Linked DNA regions of Homo sapiens. The protein of the gene in region 3 interacts with the protein of the main gene of each other region in a pairwise test. Each region holds a gene or a part of one and is shown on either strand. Other genes may lie near its edges.

Region 1 (7,028 bases), 8.4 Mb from region 3:
AGGCAGATTTGTCTGCAGGCGAGGGTGGAAAGCATTCTCTCTCCACATCTGGCAGTTTTCATAATTTTGTGGTGGGTATGGTGCTATATGGTTTTTGTTTGGCTTTGCTTCCCACCCTCCCAACCCCAGGGTTTCATCTGCTTAGTTCCAGCAAAATACACTTAAATGTAGGGAGAGGAGGCCAACATCAACAAACTCATAACATTCTTGATTCCTGTCCTGCTAGCAGGGAAATTAAGTAGGTAGATAACATTGAAGGATTTTTTTTTTCTGTGGGTTAACATTAATCTTTTTTTTTCTTTAGGACAAAATGTAAAACTGTGTCAAACACACACACGTGTGTACACACACACATGTGTACACACACATGACCCTCCTCATTTCTGCTTCATCTGGAGACCTACACAAGTTTTGTGCTTCCTTTTATTACTGGAGATGAAAACATGACCCAGCCTCCTTTAGGAGTCTCTGCAAGCAAGGCCGACTCATCTGAGTCGTGACCGCTATTTCTTCCCTCAGCTGGAAATCCAAATGTGATTGGTACACTCTAAGAGTACCGTTCTAAAGACACAGGCACCTCCGTCTTTTCAGAGAAATGTTGTATTTTTAATCAAGTGAACGTTTTAATTACTAACCTGCCTCCCACCTCTTATCCTCCCACAAAACAAAAACCTGCTCATGAATCTCTCACGAGTTTCCTGTGAAACATGGAGCAGCAGCTTGCTTCTTTGTATTTCTGATCGTAAGGGCTGAACACCCTTGGTAGAAGTTCCCATGAGTGATTATGCTGTTTTTGTTGTTGTTGTTGGTGGTGGTGAGCCACAATAGTTTGTGCATTGTTTCTGGGCTGGCAGAGCCAGATTTCAGGGCAGGTCTGCTTTGTCTTATATTTGGAAGTCTGCAGAATAGAGGGAGCCTGTAGGGAATTAAAGTGAATCACCCCTCCCACCCTCGTTCTTCTGTCACTTAGACGAAAGTTCTGGTGGCCACTGGGACTTCTCATGGATTTTCTTGGCAAATGCAGTTGAGTCCCCGAGATAACATACGCCCAAATAATAGGAAAATATTGAGCAGGGAGAAACACCAGACTTGAGTTCTTGTCCTTGTTTTGCAACCAACTAATTATGAAACTGTAAGTGTGTCATGTGGCTCTCTGGGCCTCAGTTTCCCCTTCTAGGAAATGAGTGTGCAGGGATTGCTGGTGGTGACATTAAATCCCAAAAGCCCATGCTATGTGAAAATGTGGACTCAGGGATACCAGTTCATCCTTTTTAAAAAAATAAAAATAAAAAAGAGAGAAGACTGAAACTCCAGAATTAAGAGTTCTAAAACTCTTGACCTCTAAAACTATTTGGACTATAGACATGTGTAGCCCACCCAATATTCATTTCCAACATCCAGGAAGAGCCAAATAAGGCTCCAGGACCAAAATGCAGCATCATCTGGGCAATGTTTTCTCTGTAACTATGACCCCAAACAACTCCCTAACACAAATATGCAAATAAGCCACACGCACACAAAATCTTAGATAAAAAAATAACCACTGATATTCAAAGCCTCAGGATGTAACTCAATTCAGCTATAGAACATGTTAACTTATTTATTTCATATCACTCACAGAAATGCACAAGTGATATGCACAAGAAATGGAATAAACTATCTCATGTATCATGAGACATGCGTATGAGTTCAAGTAGATTTTGCTTGTGGTTAATTAGACCTCTTTCCAACAGTCACCCTGGCAAGCACACAGGAAGAGAAAGCAGTCATGATATCCTGAGTGTGGGTGTTCAAGTACATTAATACCACGAGATAAAAAAAAAACACTGTCACTATGTGAATTTTAACTGGAGGAACATATCTCAGGCCTCTATTTATCAAGATTTGTTTTTAATTTTATATCCTGGGAACTAAGGTGACAGCTTTTTTGTTTCTTCTAAAGAATGGCTGAAGTAACTCCAACAATACACTTAAATGGCTTCTCTTCAACATCTTGGATGAGGTTAATGAGAAATAAGAAGCAAAGGAAAAATATCGACTATCTATAATCAATAAATCAGGTGAATGCAGGCAGGCTTGGGTTCCAGAGTTTTCTGTGCTGCTCACCAAACTGTCAAGAGTTTGGTATAAATAAAGTACATGACTGCCCTGTGAGAAGTCATGTCCCTCTCACCTGCTTCAAGACCTCTATGTAATCCACATTCCACACCCTACGGTCCATGTTCTTTTGCTGGACAGGTAAGGTAGCAAAAACATTTCTAAATGACAGGGAAAAATAAATCACTTGCACATTCTCAAAGGTATTTTCCAAGACTTTAGACCTTCGGACCCATAGACCTTTGCCTGTGCTTTTAGTTTCAGTAACTTCTCCGGCAGTGATTCCCAAACTTTAGGATATCATAGACCAGTCAAATTTCAAAGCAAACTTGGAGCTGCTAACATTTAAACAAAATTTAAAAGAGGAATTACTACAAAACAAAGTGAAAAGGGGACAAAAATGGTCCAGCGGTCCAGCAACCATCTGTCACCCCCAAATTTCATATAAAAACCAATATTTCAAATCAAATATAGTAGAAAGTACATACTCTTAATATGAAGGGCCATCCCCTGAGTTGAACAAAATTGGCTTTATTTAAAAATTACCATGTTATACTGAGTTTCTTTCCTTTTTAGCAGGTCTATGCAAACTTTGCCAGGATGTAGGAACCACTGGATGGCTCGATCTAATGCTCTATGATTGTATATGACTGATCCACTCCTTAACAGGGAACTTAGTCAAATACAGTCACATCATATTTATCACTCATATATCAGAATTCTATCTTTCAAATCAATAAGTTTATTCGCCTTTTAATGAGAAACCACGTAGGAGGGCCCAAAAGATAGATTTTTATTTTAATGAATATATATGCCTTATCCTAAACCTCTGCCCTGGGGCCTCACAAGTGGAGATAGGGTGGGTTTTGATATTGATTTTCCCTTAAAAGGCAAACAAGTACTTTACAATCCAATCGTATAAAAAGGTCGTGCCAGCACCACCCCTGTGGAGGTTTTTGCACACGTGAGGGAAAGGAGGTAGCAAACGTTACCTTTGGAATGCACATTGTGGGCTCGGACAAGCGAGGGTAGGTGTAGGAGTTGTAGGAGTGTCCTTGGGGATGGGTTTTAAATGCACTTGCTCCAAATGGCATCATCGGTTCCTGGAGTCCCGAGCCTGACCTGGACCTCTGCCGCATGGTGGGCTGAGGGCTTGTCTGATTCAGGTACGAAGACTTTGGCCTCCTGTCATAGTCATCCAGGCTGGGTCCCCATTCACTTTCACTGTACGCCAGGCTCTCCTTGGAGCACCCGCTGGTCCCTGCAGTTCTAGAAGGTGTGAATTGGAATGAATAATCCAGAGGGGAGCTACTCGAGGCTCTCTGATACTCCCACTTGAGGTCACTGTATTCACTTGGTTTGCTCAGTGAGTCCAAATGTGAGTGATAATCGGCAGAAAATCTGGCAAAATCGGATTTCAAAGGCTTCACCTCAGAATAGTAGGCCTCCCCGTGCTTCATTTTCATTACGTGCCCATTTTGCTTGGCTGCGTGGCTGCCTCTATAATACGGATCCAGATCATCTCCATAGAGACTCTTCTCCCTGTACTTTTCGGTCGTGTAGTCAGCAGTAGTATCGGATTCGCTGGAATACTGGGAGAAGGTGATGAAGCCATTTTCTTCCGCGTGGCCTGGACCGTGGCTGGAGGCTCCCTGATCTGGGGTGGGTGGGCTTTCTTTCCTTAGGGAGTTGGAGCGAGTCACCGAGATGTTGTCAAAATCCTCTAGCAGGCCGTTGATGGAGGTTTCCTTGCAGGGTTTGTTTCCTCTAACGATTGTCTGGGAATAATAGAGGGAATATTGTTTAAAGAAAATATTTCATGGATTTAAATTGATGGTGGCATCCCACCCCCACTCCATCCAAATTAAACTACAGAAGAAAAAAGACCCCGGGAACACTTAACACAAAATGATAAAGAAAATGTGTTGATTGACTTCAGTGGTGAAATAAATCAAATAGTAAACAATCTCAAATTGCATTTTTCTTCTTACCTATCTCAACAGAGACATCAAATAACCATCAAAAAGCCATGTAGGAGACTACATAGAATATAACTGTTTTATTTACCAGTTTACAGGCAAATCCCTTCCCCCTACTTCTTCTACCTAAATAATAAGCCCTAACCACCTAATGATGAGCTGATAATTATAATTTAACACTCTATAACTGTTTGGTAATAAAAAATAATATTTATTACTGTTTTACATTCATTATTCAGATGATTTTCAAAACCAGAAGGCATTATCACCCAACTATTAACATAACTAGAAATGGGTGTACATTTTTTGCCCTTATATGGAAGACATAATAACTGAGGTTATGAAATTTTATGGATGAGGCAGGCACTTCCTGAAACTGTAATTAGGAAACAGACTGAAGATTATTTGTGTGATTTATGATCAAATGTGATATTCTTATTAAGTATATATACTTATACTATACTGCTTGTTTGTTATGGCCACACTTCTGTGTAACATCACCGCTGAATTTTGGATGGCTTAGTAATGATGGTTGCACCTGGATCTTAGTGACAAATTGTTCCCTTTAATGAACCTAAATAACACAAGAATACCAGGAACTGAAAGACATCGCAAACCACTTACAAAGCCCGTCAGCCGTGCCTTGACAATGACAGGATTTGCAGGCAAATATGATGGGGGTGGATAAAAGAACAAAGAACAAAGTGTTGTGACTTCAGACTTCCAGGATTTTAGGAGAAAAATACTTTTGAGCAAGTAGCAAGGAGTTCAAAACTATCTTGGATGGTACAATAGAAGATTTCAAACTGGAGGAAGAAGTCAAAGTTGTCCTGGAGCTGATGTTTTATAGATCTATCCATGGTGAAACAAAGGGTTTATTTTTTTTCTTTCCAAGAGTCCTGGACTAATAGTTTTGTACTATACCCTTTTCTTTCAAATAAAATTTTTATTCTAGAATAGTTTTAGATTAACAGAGAAGTTGCAAAGAGAATACAGAGTTCTCATAGACTTCTCATCCAGTTTCCCCTTGAGTTAATATCTTGCATTGCTATTAAGGAAACTCCATGTTCCTATAGATTTCATTAATTTTCTCCTAGGGTTCTAGAGTCCCATCCAGGATAGTTCATTACATTTATTTGTTATATCTTCCGAGTTTCCTCTGATCTGTGACAGTTTCTCAGATTTTCCTTATTTTTTGATGACCTTGACAGTTTTGAGGAGTACTGGTGAGGTATTTTGGAGAATGTTCCTCCATTGGGGTTTTCTGGTGTTTTTCCCATGTTTAAACAGAGGTTATTTGGTTTGAGGAGGAAGATCAGAGAGTCAAGTCACATTTCATCGCATAATGTTTAGGGTACATATCGTCGACACGACTTAGGAATGATGATGTTAGCCCTGACTACCTGGGTGAGGTCATATTTTCCAGGTTTCTTATACACACAGTCACACTCCCCTTCCCTAGCTTTCTGTATATTGTATTCTTTGGGAACAAGTCAGTAAGTGTAGCGTCTACTCAAGGGTCAGGGATTTAAGCTTTATCTTCTTGGGTGTGTGTGTGTGGTGGGGGTAGGGTATCTATATAAAGTAGTTGGAATTCTTCTGCACAGGAGACTTGCTTATTTGCTCCCATTTACCTACTCATTCAATCATTTATTTATATATAAGGATGGATGGACTTATGGTTATTTATTTTATACTTTGGGTTATAAGCCAACACTCTGTTATTTGCCTTGTTGCTCAAATGGTTCCAGCTTTTGTCACTGGGAGTTCTCTCAGGCTGGCTGCTGTGTCCCTTTGATGATCCCTCTTCCTTTTATTTTTTGAGCACTTCCTTACTTTCTGTCCCTACAAGAAGCTCCAGGTTTATCTTTTATTTTCCCTGCCCTTCCCCCCAAATCAGGCATTTCTCCAAGGAACGCTAATAGTATTAGAAATTAAGATTTGGTTCCAGGAATACTCATTGCTACTGGGTGTCATTGCCAGGCCTCAGCAAACAGAGCTCCGAAATAATATGTTTGTAGACTAACTCATGAACACACTCACACACCTATAATTATATCCATCCATCTGTATCTATATTAACCTAAACATAAATCCACATTAATGTCTCTGAATCTAATCAAGTACCACATAATTCATTCTTGCCATTTCCTTACCTGTAACTTCCTCTGCAACAGTAAAAAACATGGGCCCCACCATCTGCCAGTCATTTGCCTATTCAGTGCTAGTATAACTGTTCAGCAGTTTCAGATTAACTCACTCTACCATGAGAAACAACTTTGTCAACTCAAGTACCATGTTTAAGTCCAGTTCTTTAAAATTCCTTTACACTTATAGTTTGCATTCAAAGCACTGTTTCCAAAGTTCCTTAAGTTAGTGTCTTTTTTCCTGCACCCCCTTCAATGAGGTTATGTTATAAATGTATAGCTGTTGGATTCTTTGGTCACATTCTGCATTCTATCCCAGGATCCTCTGATCTTCTGGTTTATTTTTTGTTGTTTTTTGAAACTACGTACATTAATTAACTCTTTGTGCTGCAAAGCTCTATGGGTATTGACAAGTGCAAAGCATCATGTATTCACTGTTAGAGTGCCATACAAATTAGTGCCACCAGCTGCAAAAATATCTCCTGAGTTTCCTCTAGTCAAACATTACCCTCTCCCCAAACCCTTGATATCACTGATCTGTTTTCTGTCCTTATTGTTTTGTCTATTCCAGAATATCATATGGATGGAATCATACAGTCTGGAGCCTTTCAGCTTGACTTCTTTCACTGAGCATAATATAGTCAGTGTTCATAAACTAATATCCTAGTCTTTTTTTTGCCTATTCCTTTTTTATTCCATAGTGTGGAATTCATTATATGGAATGTAGTCATTGTTGAGGGTGGTGCATAAATTGATGGATTGATTGCCAAAGTAGGGGATGCTCTGTTGGAGCCTCCCTTAGAGA
Region 2 (7,028 bases), on a different chromosome or scaffold from region 3:
TCGTGTTCCACGTAGTGGATCCTTCCCTCCTAGCCAAGTTAAGGGCAACCTTGTGTGTTGACTTCTGTGTTGCCCTCACATGTATCAGATCCTGCAAGACTATGTGTCATAAATTCTTTGCGTAAAGGAACGTGATCTAGTAGAGTCTTGAAATTTAGTGAGGGGGAGAATCCAGCATACAATCTTTTTAGATCTTGTCCAAGGAGTATAGTTACTAAACTCCAAAGGATTTCAGGCTGCCAATAAGGTAGTCACGTGGCATGGATCCATTTTAGTAAGATTCCTTTGTGTTTGTTTTTCTGAAAAGGATTCAGCGTCTTGGAAAGAGATCAGGAAAAATGCACAGGTTTCCTTATAGCATCCTGTCTCGCTAGAGAGCTCGTTGCTCCAAAGAGCTTCCTTTTCCTGGTATCTATACCTGGAGAAGTCATTGACTAATGATAACTGGAAATACCAGTAGAAGTCAGTGAATGCTTCCAATCTCAATCTCCTGTATACTTTTCACCAATTTTTTTTTTTATCAAAGAACTTGGATTCCACTATGATAGAAGAAGCCTGTCTTCCGAAAAGGACTTCTAGAGCCACAAAGTGCTTGGTTAACACCTTGGTGATGGTGAAAATCCTGTGCCCCTCCTGGACTACCATGTGCCCCTCCCCGGGTTAGGGTTCAGACTCTTGCTTTAGGATTTAGGAAACCAGAGAATATTCAGTGGCTTGGCTAGTATCCAGTAGCAGGTGGGCGTAGTTAGGAGGCGAGACCAGGTGTGGGTGTAATAGCCCAGCCTGTCCTGTCCCACACTAACACTGCACCACACTCAACGAGCTTCTACGGCTCGGCCTGCTCATCTGCTCCCAGCACCCACTGTCCCCAGATTATTTAGGTTGACTCAGCTTCTTTGTCATTGTCACTTGGAGTCTTCAGGCCTCGTTTCTGATCCTCTGCCCCACCTGCCCCAAATGTGCAAGGAAACCTCTTTCTTCCTGTCTGCCAAAGCCTGTCACTCATCATTCCCTGCTGTGGAGTAGAGCCCCAGGACTCCCTCCTCCTAGGCAGCAGCTGCAGGGGTGACCTGCTCAGCTGCTTCTGCTGCTTTGGGTGAAGAGAGTGTGACTCAGTAAACCCCAGAGACCATTCCTGAACGTCCCGTCATCTCCCCTAAGAAACTTTCCACACTCTGCCCTTCTTCAACCTTCCCTGCCGACTCTCAGCTCACCTCTCAGCTCTCCTCTCAGCACAGACTTCTGCAGTTACTGCAGTTTTCTGTGTTCCATCCTTTTAGTTGTTGTTTGTTTGTTTGTTTGTTTGTTTTGAGATGGAGTCTCACCCTGTTGCCCAGGCTGGAGTGCAGTGGCACAACCTTGGCTCACTGCAACCTCCGCCTCCCAGGTTCAAGTGATTCTCCTGCCTCAGCCTCCGAGTAGCTGGAACTACAGGCGCGCGCTGCCACGCCCAGCTAACTTTTGTGTTTTTAGTAGAGACAGGCTTTCACCATGTTGGCCAGGCTGGTCTCAAATTCCAGATCTCGGGTGATCCACCCACGTCAGCCTCCCAAAGTGCTGGGATTACAGGTGTGAGCCACTGTGCCATCCTTTAAAGGATGTGTTCCATCCTTTAAAACATGCCACAGTGAGCTAGGCCGTGAGCTTACTTCCTCTGAGGAGGGACCTGCTTCTGGCCTTCTGCCCTCTTCCTTTCAGCACTGTTTCTTCCTCCTCAGTCCCCCGACGTCCTGATTTTTTGTGTATTTGTTTCGTTTTGTTTTGCCTTTGGGAGACATGTTTCTGCACACGGCAGGCGCAGCCCACCGCCAGAACCCCTCACACCTGCCACCTTCCTCCCTCATTGCCACCTGCAGCTTAGGATGCTGGTTGTCAAAATGAAAATACAAAGTTATGCAAAACTCAGGTTGTATTTTCAGCCATGTACTTTTCATAGGCATAAGTTCTGGAACTCTGAAACTGAGGTCATGACAAAGCAGATTTGCCCTCAGAAGGTTCCAGAATCCTTGTGACGCCTTCCTGTTGCTAATGGTAGCACTGTATCTATCCTAGCATTATATCTACAGAGCAGAGGCAGGACCTTTGGCAGGAGACACATCCCTTCTCCTGTGATGTGTCAGTTAGTGTAGAGAAGCAAGCTGGCATGGACTTGAGAGCCGGGGTGGGTATCTGCCCCATGTGGCCTGGCTATGGCTGCTCTGTTCAGGGAGCCTGGGGTCAGGGGTGGCGGCCACCAACCTGTGCCAGAGAAGGCTAGTCTCTGCATGGACTTCAGTGCAGGCATACCCGGCCTGATGGGGAGGGCTGTGGGTGGAAACCACACAGAAAAGATGCCTCCTCTTGCTTGAATTGTGGTGTTAACTAGCCGGGAACGTATGTGTCTGGTTGCTGAAATTAATACCGCATTTGCCTGTGGGCTTATCTTTCAGGATTCCTTTGGGACCTCTTCCAGACACACCCTGTTCCGTAGCCTCTCGAGAAAGTAGTAAATTTTGCTGACTCTGCGTTATTGAAATCTCGCTTGGTCGTTCATTCTCATAAAATCTGGAATATGATTTATTGTTTATATATTGTAATTTTCACAGGGGTTTGAAGTAGAAATAGTTTTATCTCAAATTAGAATATTTCTCCTCTCAAGCATATGCCAACAACACATAGCAATATTGTAAATTTGGAAATCTGTGTTATTTCCGTGTTCACTCATGTTCAATTAGACAGAATTAATATATTCTGTAATGTTTTTAGTATCATTTTTAAAAACTAAAGATATTTACTTCAAAATAGTGAACAGTAAATTCAAAATAAACTTCCTTATTTAGTAACATAACACATATATTAATAAGCTAAATATCTAACTGGAAAGCACAAAACGGCTAGGTTATTGTGCAGTTACCAGTTCTACAGAGAAACCTGGCTTATCCTAAGTGCAATCATTATGTTGATCCATATATATATATACATATCCTTATATATACATATATTGATCATTATAATTGATCCTAAGTGCAATCATTATATTGAATGTGCTGTGTGTATTTGTAGGAGCTGTATTTTTCTTAACAGATGCTGTCTGTTAGCCTTTTCTTTATCTTACAGTTTAAATTTCAAGCATTTATTAGAGTAACTGCATGAATGTTTACACACACATACCCTGGCCTAAGATTTTTTTTTTTTTTGAGACAGGGTCTGCCACTATCACCCAGGCTGAAGTGCAGTGGCACAATCTCGGCTCGCTGCAACCTCTGCCTCCGGGGCTCAAGCAGTCCTTCCACCTCAGCCTCCAAGTAGCTGGGACCACAGGCACACACCACCATGCTGGGCTAACTTTTGTACTTTTTGTAGAGACGGGGTTTCTCCATATTGCCCAGGCTGGTCGCAAACTCCTGAGCTCAAATGACCCTCCCATCTCAGCCTCCCGAAGGGCTGGGATTACACGTGTGAGCCACCATGCCCAACAGTGGCCTAAGATTTTATCTTTTGGGTTTGAGAAAAAAAAATTCATTTCTCTTCATCTTTATGAAGATACTGGCTGATGCACAGTTTAAGAAGATAGTGTGTTTGAAATAGCTCCTAACAGATATCAGCATCCTCTGATATTATTATTGATAGAAAATATTTTCTTTTTCTTTTTTTTTTTTTTTTTTTTTGAGATGGAGTTTCACTCTTGTTGCCTAGGCTGGAATGCAATGGTGCCATCTTGGCTCACCACAACTTCTACCTCCTGGGTGAGCCGGGTTCTCCTGGCTCAGCCTTGTGAGTAGCTGGGATTACAGGCATGTGCCACCACGCCTGGCTAATTTTGTATTTTCAGTAGAGACAGGGTTTCTCCATGTTGGTCAGGCTGGTCTCGAACTCCCGACCTCAGGTGATCTACCCGCCTCGGCCTCCCAAAGTGCTGGGATTACAGGCGTGAGCCACTGTGCCCGGCCAAAAAGATTTTCTATCTGTGCAATATTACAGACATCTTTAATATTTATTAAGTACTCCCAGTGCAGTATAGAAGTTCTTTCATTTTAAAAAAATGTCCTGAGACGGGAGAAAAATCTTAAAAAAAGAAGTCAGTGTAGGTGAAGTGGGATTTCAAAGTGGCCTGTGACCTTTCGCACACAGTTACGCTGCAGGGGAGGTGGCAGTGCGTTTGGCATGGGAGGAGGGCACGGTGGGGAGGTTGCACTTCCGCCCTTCCAGTGCTGGTACCGCCAGTGACCTCGAGTGGCAGGGACCCCTCGGTCATCACCAGGCTGATGTGATGGGAGTCAGAGTGCCAGAAAGACAAAACCCCCTCGCTTGCCATGCTGCCACACTCGGCGCCTCTCTGTCTCCTCGGCCGTCCTCTCTGAAGGTGATGTCTCCAGCGGCAGCGTGTCATCCTGGAGGACATTGTGTCAGCAGTGAAGCCCTGCATCCCTGCCAGTCATCCTGAAGGACATTGTGTCAGTAGTGAAGCCCTGCGTCCCTGCCAGTCCAGGCTTTCTTCCTTGTCCTTGCCCCGCCTGGTGAAGCTGACAGACAGTGAGCAGAGCGCTTTAGTGACCTGCCCATTCCTCACGGGTGGCTGTGGCCCATCAGAGCAGAGGGGTTCCGCGGTCCAGTTCTATCCTTGACCTTCTGTCTCAGCCTGTTTCCTCATCACCTACTCATTCAGAAAATGCTTCCAAAGAGGGAATGTCATGTTTGTTCCTGATGACACACTCTCAAGAAACCTCTTTCATCATAAGCGACTTGCAGAAAGAGATTAAAATGAGAGGCACCAGGAATAGGATGGGTTTTTTCAGACCGTAGTCAGTTTTCCTGCCTTTGCGTTTTACAGATTAAGTTCATAGAGTCAGTCATCTTTCCCATTTCCAAAGAAGGGTTGTTTTTCTTTCTCTTCTTTTTGGTTAGTGAACTGTTTTCTCTTTCACTAATTTAGAGTGCTAACTTTGGCCCTGTTTCCATTAGGAGATGAAAGCATGGAAATAAAAAAGCAAATTACAGGGATGAGAAGATTGCTGAACGACAGCACTGGGCGGATCTATCAGCGAGTTGGCAAAGAAGGAGAGAAACTAAAAGAAGAGCCCCAGGACCTGGATTTAGTCTGGCCTCCACGTTTGAACTCCTCTGCTGAGGCCCCGCAAAGCCTCCACCCGTCTTCACGTGGTGTGTGGAATGAGCTACCGCCCCAGAGTGGACAGTTCTCAGGGCAGTATGGCACCCGTTCTAGAACCTTCCAAAGCCAGCCCCACCCTACCACGAGCTCCAATGGTATGGTTGTCAACAAACATTCAGAAGGCTCTCATGGGGGTTTGTACTGTTCTATTTCTAAATATTCAGTGTGTTGAGTTCAATTTATTAAACCCTCCCATAATTACCTGCCTTTGCTGAGTTACTTTAAAAGACAGGGAGACACAAAGGAAAGAGTTGAAGACTATTAAAAAACAGAATTGAGAATTAGGAAAGACAGGGGGTTCTATGTTATAAGTGAAGATTTCCTGGTAGAGATTTTAGCCCTTTAAGAGGTTAAAGCGATCATTTTGTGCCCATGTATGGATATTATTGTCACAAAAAAAACCTGAACATTAGGGCAGAAAGAGCTCCCCACTGTCTTTAAAAGAAGCTTCCTGGTCCTATGGTGTGTTACTAACATATCCTCTTGGTTACTCCTTCACCTTACTCATTATCAGAAGAGTCCCAGATAAAGGCGGGGGCGGACAGGGGTGGGGGGCCGATAACCCAGCATCCCACGTCAGTACTGAACCCAGTGATCCATATTTTGTAACATGCTTCATTAGCAATGGAAAGTATTCCTTTAAAGTAAAATTTTCTTAATTTAAGTTTCCTAATTGTTAAGAAAAGAATCAAATGACAATTTTTTTTCAAAGCTTAAGGAGAAAAACCTGATGCTTTTTGTGGTCATATTAGTTTTCTATCCGGCCACACTGGATGCTATAATATTTGTTCTATAAACTCTGTAGAGATGTGCAGATCTATAGTTTTCACAAAGAGAACAAGAAAAAGGTAAGAAAGCATTTTCAGTTTCCTTAAGAAGTTAAGGATTTTTTTCCATTCATTTTCATTTCACAATATCCTTCAAGAAAAAGAGAACTGTTTTGACTTTTTTTAAAAACACAATTTGTGGTTCAGAGGCATGAAAAGCCATCCTGAGACATTGATGAGACAGCGAAGGACCCCAGAAATGTATGGGTGTCTTCTCTGCCTCTCAGTAGTACATAAGCCAGTATCAAAGTTCCAATGCTGGCATGCCTCCAGGTTAGAGGGACACAGCTCTTTAAAGACTCCTCCATAAAAATAAAAAGTCAGTTCTCTTTAAAATTAGAAAATGATTTATAACAAGCTGAAAAGGGTTGGTTTTGTCTTCTAAAAATGATAAAAGATGGTACTTAGAATAGTGACTAGAAATATTCTTTAAGACCTTTCTAACTCTACTACCATGGAAGAGACAATAAGAGAAATAAAATACCCTTAGGTATGTATGAAGTTAATAAACCCCACATCAGTAAGTTTTGGGTGAACAGTGTTCTGTTTCCCAGTATACAGTAGGGACAGTGGATTTACTTTGAAAAGTATGAAGTTAGTAAAAGTTACAAACATAAATTCCCCCATATCAGTTTGAAAATAGATATTTTATGTTTTCAATAGAAATATGGCTAGGCGTGGTGGCTCGTGCCTGTAGTCCTAACGCTTTGGGAGGCCGAGATGAGTGGATTGCTTGAGGCCAGGAGTTCGAGACCAGCCTGGCCAACATGGCGAAACCCCATCACTACTAAAAAATACAAAAATTAGCCGGGCGTGGTAGCGCATGCATGTAGTCCCAGCTACTTGGGGGGCTGAGGCATGAGAAGCGCTTGAGCCTGGGAGGCAGGGGTTGCAGTGAACCAAGATCATACCAGTGCACTCCAGCCTGTGCAGCAGAGCGAGACCCTGTCTCAAAAAAAAAAAAAAAAAAAAAAGAAAAAGAAATATATTACATATAACTGTGACTACTTTGGTATTTCATTGGGATTATTTATAATTTTAAAGTTGTAACA
Region 3 (7,028 bases):
GAAGAACAGCATTCTTAAAGTATGGAGAGAAAAAGAATTGTCAACCCAGAATTCTATATCCAGTGAATATTTCACCTTCATTTCTAAAGGATATTAAGATATTATTAAGAATATCTTAACAAAGAAACTAAGAGAATTCATAGTCAATAGATCTTCTCAAAAGGAGTTTTAAAAGGAAGTTCCTCAGACAGAATGGAGATGATACCAGATGGAAACTTCAAACATCAGGTATAAAAGAAGAGTGGTAGAAATGGTAAATATGTGGGTAAATATAATGGACAGTTCTCTAAAATAGGTTTCATAGTTTTATTAGTGTTCTCTTAGAGGGACAGAACTAATAGGCTATATCTACATACATATGTATTGGGGAGTTTATTAAGTATTAACTTATACGATCACAAGGTCCCACAATAGGCTGTCGGCAAGCTAAGGAGCAAGGAGAGCCGGTCTGAGTCCCAAAACTGAAGAACTTGGAGTCCGATGTTCAAGGACAGGAAGCATGCAACACAGGAGAAAGATGTAGGCTGGGAAGCTAGGCCAGTCATGTCCTTTTCATGTTTTTCTGCCTGCTTTATATTCTCTGGCAGCTAATTAGATTGTGCCCACGAGATTAAGGGTGGATATGCCTTCTCCAGCCCACTGACTCAAATGTTCATCTCTTGGCAACACCCTCACAGACACACCCAGGATCAATATTTTGTATCCTTCAATCCAATCAAGTTGGCACTCAGTATTAACCATCACATGTCTACCCCTTGTCAACTTGAACTGATACACATCTCCTGAGATCATACATAATCTTCAAATAAAGCCAAAATAAGGTCATAATTACGCCTAACATAATACAACTATCCTTCGTACAACTAGAAACTCACCAATCCCCAACCCAAATACTATTACATAAAGTTAACAATACTTAAATGCTGATACAAAGTCAGTAAACCTTATGTCACATGATAAAGGAGAAAGGAAATAAAATGAAGATGCTTTCTTAATTAAGTGTATGCATGCACAAACATGTTTTTAACAAAAGGAGGAAATACTCATGACAATTACAGTCCTCGTTTCTGCAGCTGGTCACGTGGTCGTAGCTGGTATTGATGATTGCCTTCTACTACTACCCATTCTGTATTCCCTTTGCCTTCAGTAAGCACCTCAGCAGGTCGTTTTTTTTTTTTCCTGGTGGAGTGACCCAAAAAGGGTCACTTCATTCCTGAAGGGTCTGGATCATTTGTAGTCCTGCCTGGATTGGGCTGTTGTAGTTTCTCATTGATCTTAATCACAGGGCATGGTAATACTAAGAGATGCCTTAATGGATCTCCTGTATTCCATGCATACTCTTCCTTACCTCCGTTCTAGAGTAGTAGACTGATTTCATCTTGATAGTCTGGGTCAGTCACCCCAGCCAACATTGTAACTCCCTTCTCAGCCTGTTGACTTAAAGGTAGAGGAGCCCAAAGTATCAAGTGGCAATCTTAACTTCCAGTTTAATGGAATTATTGTGTCTCCTGGTGGCAGCGTTCCTCCCTCTGGAACTAAGACCTCTAGGCCAGCAGAACGCAATGTCATGGGAATAGGAAGCAAAAATTTTGCTAGTGGATGTCAATCTTTTAAAAACTAAATTAAAAAAAAACTAAACAAATTGTAGCACAGCATCTGACACAAAGCAAACTCTCAGTAAATCGCAGCAGCTGCTGTTATTACATTCTTCCAGGTCTTTCCTTTAACAAATCTGTTCACCTGCAATGCTACATTTTATCATTATGGCAGGCCCTGTGGGTGTTACTACTTAGATTTTACATCTTAAAGACTGAAGTGCAGAAGTTTCATGGCAGACCCCTGCCAACCAGCTGGAAAATTCCCAACCCAATGTCCAGAGCGCATCTCTGACTCCCAGTCCTGAGGCCTTTCCAGTTCACCAGACCACCTCAGCCATTAGAAGGGTGTCAGCTGGATTTGTGTGCCCAACGAGGTGTGTTGCTTTTATGTAAAAGAGAAGCACATAAGGAAGAAATCATGAGTGTTCAGGATCCCTTTCCAGTCCCTTAAAGAGGCTGCTTTTGCAGTAGCGACATACTACCCAGTGAGCTCAGCCATGCAGTTTTTCCTGCAGGGTTAGAGTGGATCACTTCCTTCAGTTGATCACCATTTGAAGTAGCAGGGGTTTGAGTTCAGAGGCCATGTACGAAAATGATTTTAAAAATACCTGGAGCCTCATTTAGCACATGCAAGACTGAGACTCAGCCAAGGGGGCTATCTAGAGAAGGACGGAACCCCCTCCCTCTGTACTATTTACTCTGAGTTCATAAAAAAATTAGCCAGGCGTGGTGGCGCATGCCTGTAATCCTAGCTACTTAGGAGGCTGAGGCAGGAGAATTGCTTGAACCTGGGAGGCAGAGGTTGCAGTGAGCTGAGATTGTGCCACTGTACTCCAGCCTGGGCAACAGAGTGAGACTCCGTCTCACAAAAAAAAAAAAAAGAAGAAGTAAATGGGTTCTAAGTGTGTAAATAATGAGGTCACAGAAGTCTTCATGTGTTGCAGTGAGTCTTTGTTGAATATGAGCCAACTGAATATGTTGTTACAGTTTCTAGTACCTTTTTAAAAATTTTTTATATTTTTCCTTAATAATAGAGATGGGGGTCTCATTATGTTGCCCAGGGTAGTCTCGAACTCCTGGACTCAAGCAATCCTCCCACCTCGACCTCCCAAAGTGCTTGGATTACAGGCATGAACTACTGCACTTGGCCTTTAGAGACATGGTTTTGCTATGCTGGCCAGGCTGGTCTCGAACTCCTGGCCTCAAGTGATTTGCCCACCTCAGGCCTCCCAAAGTGCTGCGATTACAGGCATGAGCCACCGTGCCTGGCCTGCAACTGCCTTTCTAGCCTTTCTTGTTCTCTTGTTTCTTCTCTCTTCCCCACATTTCGTGGGCCAGAGAGAAAAATAGAGATGGTTGCATATTTCAGAGCAATCTTTATTCCCAAGCATTTTATCAGCCACTAGAAGCCCCCTATGTTTGCCACTCTGGGCGGGGGGGCACTTCATGGAGTCAGGTAAGATGCTTACTGCCCTCTGGCACCACCTGGTCTGCCTCTAGTTAGGCAGGATGTTGGAGGCTGCTAGAAACTTTGACTGCTAGCTCCATGAACTGTGGCTTGGGAGCAGTAACCTAGGTCAGGAAAAATTCCTTCCCTAGGAAACCTGGCCTTGTCCATTTAAATCACAGTATCCTGCGATTCCAGCCCATCAGGTGGAACTGACTGGAGGAGCACCTACTTTTGGATTTTTTCCCGGTTCTCTAATTAATGGCTTCTTACCTGTAAGCTTAGATTAGCTGCTGTTTATAAGGCTTTCCCAAGGTCTGGCAGGAACGTGCCAGTGCCCCAGAACTATCAGGTTTGTATTGCTTGCCAGGGCTCTGCGAAGATTCCAAAGCACATCTTTCAAAATACTAAATATTTGTGTTGTATTATATCCATATCCCTATGCATTACGGAAAAAACAGGAAAGTATAAAGAAAGCCCTCACCACCCAGGAGTGACTGTCACTGTTTACGCTCTCGGTACGCTTCTTTCTGGTTGTAATTATACATACCACCACCACTACCCTGCATACACACGTTTTTCACCGTTGATTTCCCTAGGCTATTGATGACCCCCTTTCCCCTCAGTACTTAACACTAGAGCATGAGCATTTCTCCACATCATTTTTAAAACATTCCCAGAACATGGTTTTTATTGCTTCCATGGCTGCACTTGGGGACCTGCCATGATGTTCCTAACTGGTCTTCATTCAGGCTGACTGCAGTTTCCTTGATTAATGTCTTTGTGAGTATATTTTAATTTAAATTCTTTATTTAAAATGAATACCTAGACATAAAATTATCAGATCAAAGAATAGAGAGATATATAAGAGGGTCTCACTCACTACTGCTGGCCTGTGCTCCATGTCTTCCCACCGCTCTGCCGCCCAGCTCCTCCACCGATCACAATGGAAGAAGAGATCACCATACTCGTCATTGACAATGGCTCCAGCATGTGCAAAGCTGGTTTTGCTGGGGACGACGCCCCTGGAACCATGTTTCCCTCCACTGTCAGGTGCCCCCAACACCAGGGCATGATGGTGGGGATGGGCCAGAAGGTCTTCTACCTGGGCGACAAGGCCCAGAGCAAGCACGGCATCCTGACGATGAAGTACCCCATCGAGCACAGGATTTTCACCAGCTGGGAAGGCATGGAGAAGATCTGGCACCACACCCTACAACAAGCTGCATGTGTTCCTGGAGGAGCACCTGGTGCTGCTGACTGAGGGCCCCCTGAACCCCAAGGCCAACAGAAAGAAGATGGCTCAGATCATGTTTGAGACCTTCAATACCCTGGACATGTACGTGGCAGTCCAGGCCATACTTCTATGCCTCTGGGCGCACCACTGGCATTGTCATGGATTCTGGAGACGGAGTCACACACACGGTGCCCATCTACAAGGGCTATGCCCTCCCCACGCCATCCTGCGTCTGGACCTGGCTGGCCAGGACCTGACCACCTCATGAAGATTCTCACAGAGTACGACTACAGCTTCCCTACCACAGCCAAGCGGGAGATCATGCGTGACATCAAGGAGAAGCAGTGCTGCGTCGCCCCGGACTTTGAGCAGGAGATGGCCACCGCTATGTCATCCTTCTCCCTGGAGAAAAGCTACAAACTGCCTGACAGCCAGGTGATCACCATTGGCAACATGCAGTTCCAGTGTTTGGAGGTGTTGTTCCAGCCCTTCTTTCTGGGTGTGGAATTTTGCAGCATCCATGAGACCACCTTCAGCTCTATCATAAGGTGTGATGTGGGCATCCACAAGGACCTGTATGCCAACACGGTGCTGGCCAGTGGCACCACCATGTACCCAAGCATCTCCAACAGGATGCAGAAAGAGATCACTGCCCTGGTGCCAGCACAAGGAAGATCAAGATCATCGTGCTCCCAGAGCGCAAGTACTCCGTGTGGATCAGCAGCTCCATCCTGGCCTCATTGTCCACCTTCCAGCAGATGTGGATTAGCAAGCAGGAGTATGACAAGTCGGGCCCCTCCATGTCCACCACAAATGCTTCTAAATGGACTACAAGCAGATGTGTAGCATTTGCTGCATAGGATAATTCACACGTATAAATTTGCCCCTGACAAATGTATACACCTCATGCCAGCCTCACAAAACTGGAATAAGCTTTTGGAAAGAAATTTGTCCTTGAAGCTTGTGTCTGATATCAGCAGTGGATTGTAGAACTTGTTGCTGATTTTGACCTTGTATTCAAGTTAACTGTTCTCTTGGTATTTGTTTAATACTCTACATATCTTTGATTTCAGCCCTTAAGTGCATGTGGTTTGGTCACTTCATGGCTGAGGTGAAGAACATGCTTGTGGAAGACAAGTCTATGGCTTGGGGGGTCTGTGTGGCTGGCAGTCTCCCACTGGTGCAGGGTATTCATGTGTCAGGGCTGAGTATTCTGGGATTTCTCTAGAGGCTGGCAAGGGCTCCTGAACCAGTTGTCATTTCTGTCTTGCCTGTAGGACCCAGTTTCCTTTCTTAGCTGATGTTTTCCTGCCAGAACACCATGGGCTGTTACTTGTCTTGAGTTGGAAGCGGTTTGCATTTACACCTGTAAATTTATTCATCCTTTTCATTTATGTAAGGTTTTTTTGGTATGCAATTCTTGAGTCTTTAAGAGATGACAACAAATTTTGTTTTTTTTCACTGTTATGTGAGAGCATTAGGCCTAGCAGCACATCATTGTGTAAGAAAAAATAAAAGTGCTGCCATTTAAAAAAAAGACATATAAGACTTTTGAAGGACTGTGTATTTTTGTGTCTGTCTATATCTATATATATTACAGAGATAATATAGAATTACTCTCCAGAAAGCATGCAGTCATTTATGTGCCTTCTAGCTCATGCATTCTCCATGAAGGCAGAAATCGGCTATTAGGGTTGGGGGCAGTCCTAGAGATTACAGTGGTTTGTGGCCCTCCTGCAGGTACAGTGCATAAACAGATACACAGTACATCTGTAGTACTAAAATTTTATACAGGGGCTATATTGACAAAAAGGTTGAGAAGTACTGTTCTAGCTGTATGTGACTCCATACATCTGTCTCCACCTTGGAAGCTTTCAAATCTTAGCTTTGGGATTTTGGTTTTGGGTTTAAGAATAATATTTTTCTGACGTAAAACTTCTTGGTTCATTATACAAAGTTGAAGAAACTGAGAAAGTTGTGAATAAAATTTATCTGGAGGTTACCAATATTAATATTTTAAAATATTAATACTTAATATTTTAATCTATGTTTTTAGGTTTGTGTTCCGCCCTTCTTACATAATTGTCATTGTAGGATTATCATTGTTCATCTGAGCCAAGGACCACCCTGAAATATCCCTTGTGCTATGGTCTCATGCAAGGGTTTCCCATGCCTGTGAGTGTGTTTGTGATCCCACATGTATCAGGTGCCTGGCTGCTCTGGGACTTGCAGTAATTGTCTCTTGTTTGTTTCAGGTGTGATCCCCTGGGCCCGTTTGTTGTCGGGGGAGAAGACTTAGACCCTTTTGGGTGAGTACTGCTGGGGAGGTGGCAGCAACACAACTTGCTTTTGTGGCTTTTCAGCCCCAGCTCATCTTCTAATTTTAGAGTTTTCGGTCAGTCTCTTCCTTTGGGGTGGAGGAGGCAGTTGTTGCTGAGCAGCTGAGAAAGCACTGCCACATACGCTGCCCCTCCACACCTAGAGCGGTGCAGGAGAGCACTGAGTGTTGGCAGGGAGGTGAACAAGCCTAGCAGGCAGCTCTTCTGCCATTTCCCGGTCCCCCTGCCCACCCTAGTTTATCAGATGTATAGTGAGGAGCACATGGTGGGCCTTAGGGCAGCTCAGGGCTATTCAGAGGTTGCCCCACTTAATAAAGGGAGTCTCTGAGCCCCATTAGACTCTGGATGGTTCTTATGCATCCAACAAAGTTACTACAGCCTCTGCTATCCACTGTCTTCCCTGAATG

The links. The genes of interacting proteins can lie anywhere in the genome.
Region 1: the proteins of PSMF1 (region 3) and PAK5 interact in binary tests that used the Homo sapiens proteins (3 or more experiments, as listed by UniProt).
Region 2: the proteins of PSMF1 (region 3) and BEND7 interact in a two-hybrid assay, tested with the Homo sapiens proteins (2 studies listed by BioGRID and IntAct).

Annotation. Positions count from the first base shown.
Region 1 is NC_000020.11:9,577,056-9,584,083, forward strand, and holds part of PAK5 (serine/threonine-protein kinase PAK 5), read right to left. Parts: intron 3,876-7,028; coding exon 3,090-3,875; intron 1-3,089.
Region 2 is NC_000010.11:13,497,994-13,505,021, reverse strand, and holds part of BEND7 (BEN domain-containing protein 7), read left to right. Parts: intron 1-1,428; exon of another isoform or gene 1,429-2,161; intron 2,162-4,342; exon of another isoform or gene 4,343-4,512; intron 4,513-4,941; coding exon 4,942-5,244; coding exon of another isoform or gene 5,245-5,283; intron 5,284-7,028.
Region 3 is NC_000020.11:1,156,593-1,163,620, forward strand, and holds part of PSMF1 (proteasome inhibitor PI31 subunit), read left to right. Parts: intron 1-6,537; coding exon 6,538-6,591; intron 6,592-7,028. UniProt on the Homo sapiens protein: Plays an important role in control of proteasome function. Inhibits the hydrolysis of protein and peptide substrates by the 20S proteasome. Also inhibits the activation of the proteasome by the proteasome regulatory proteins PA700 and PA28.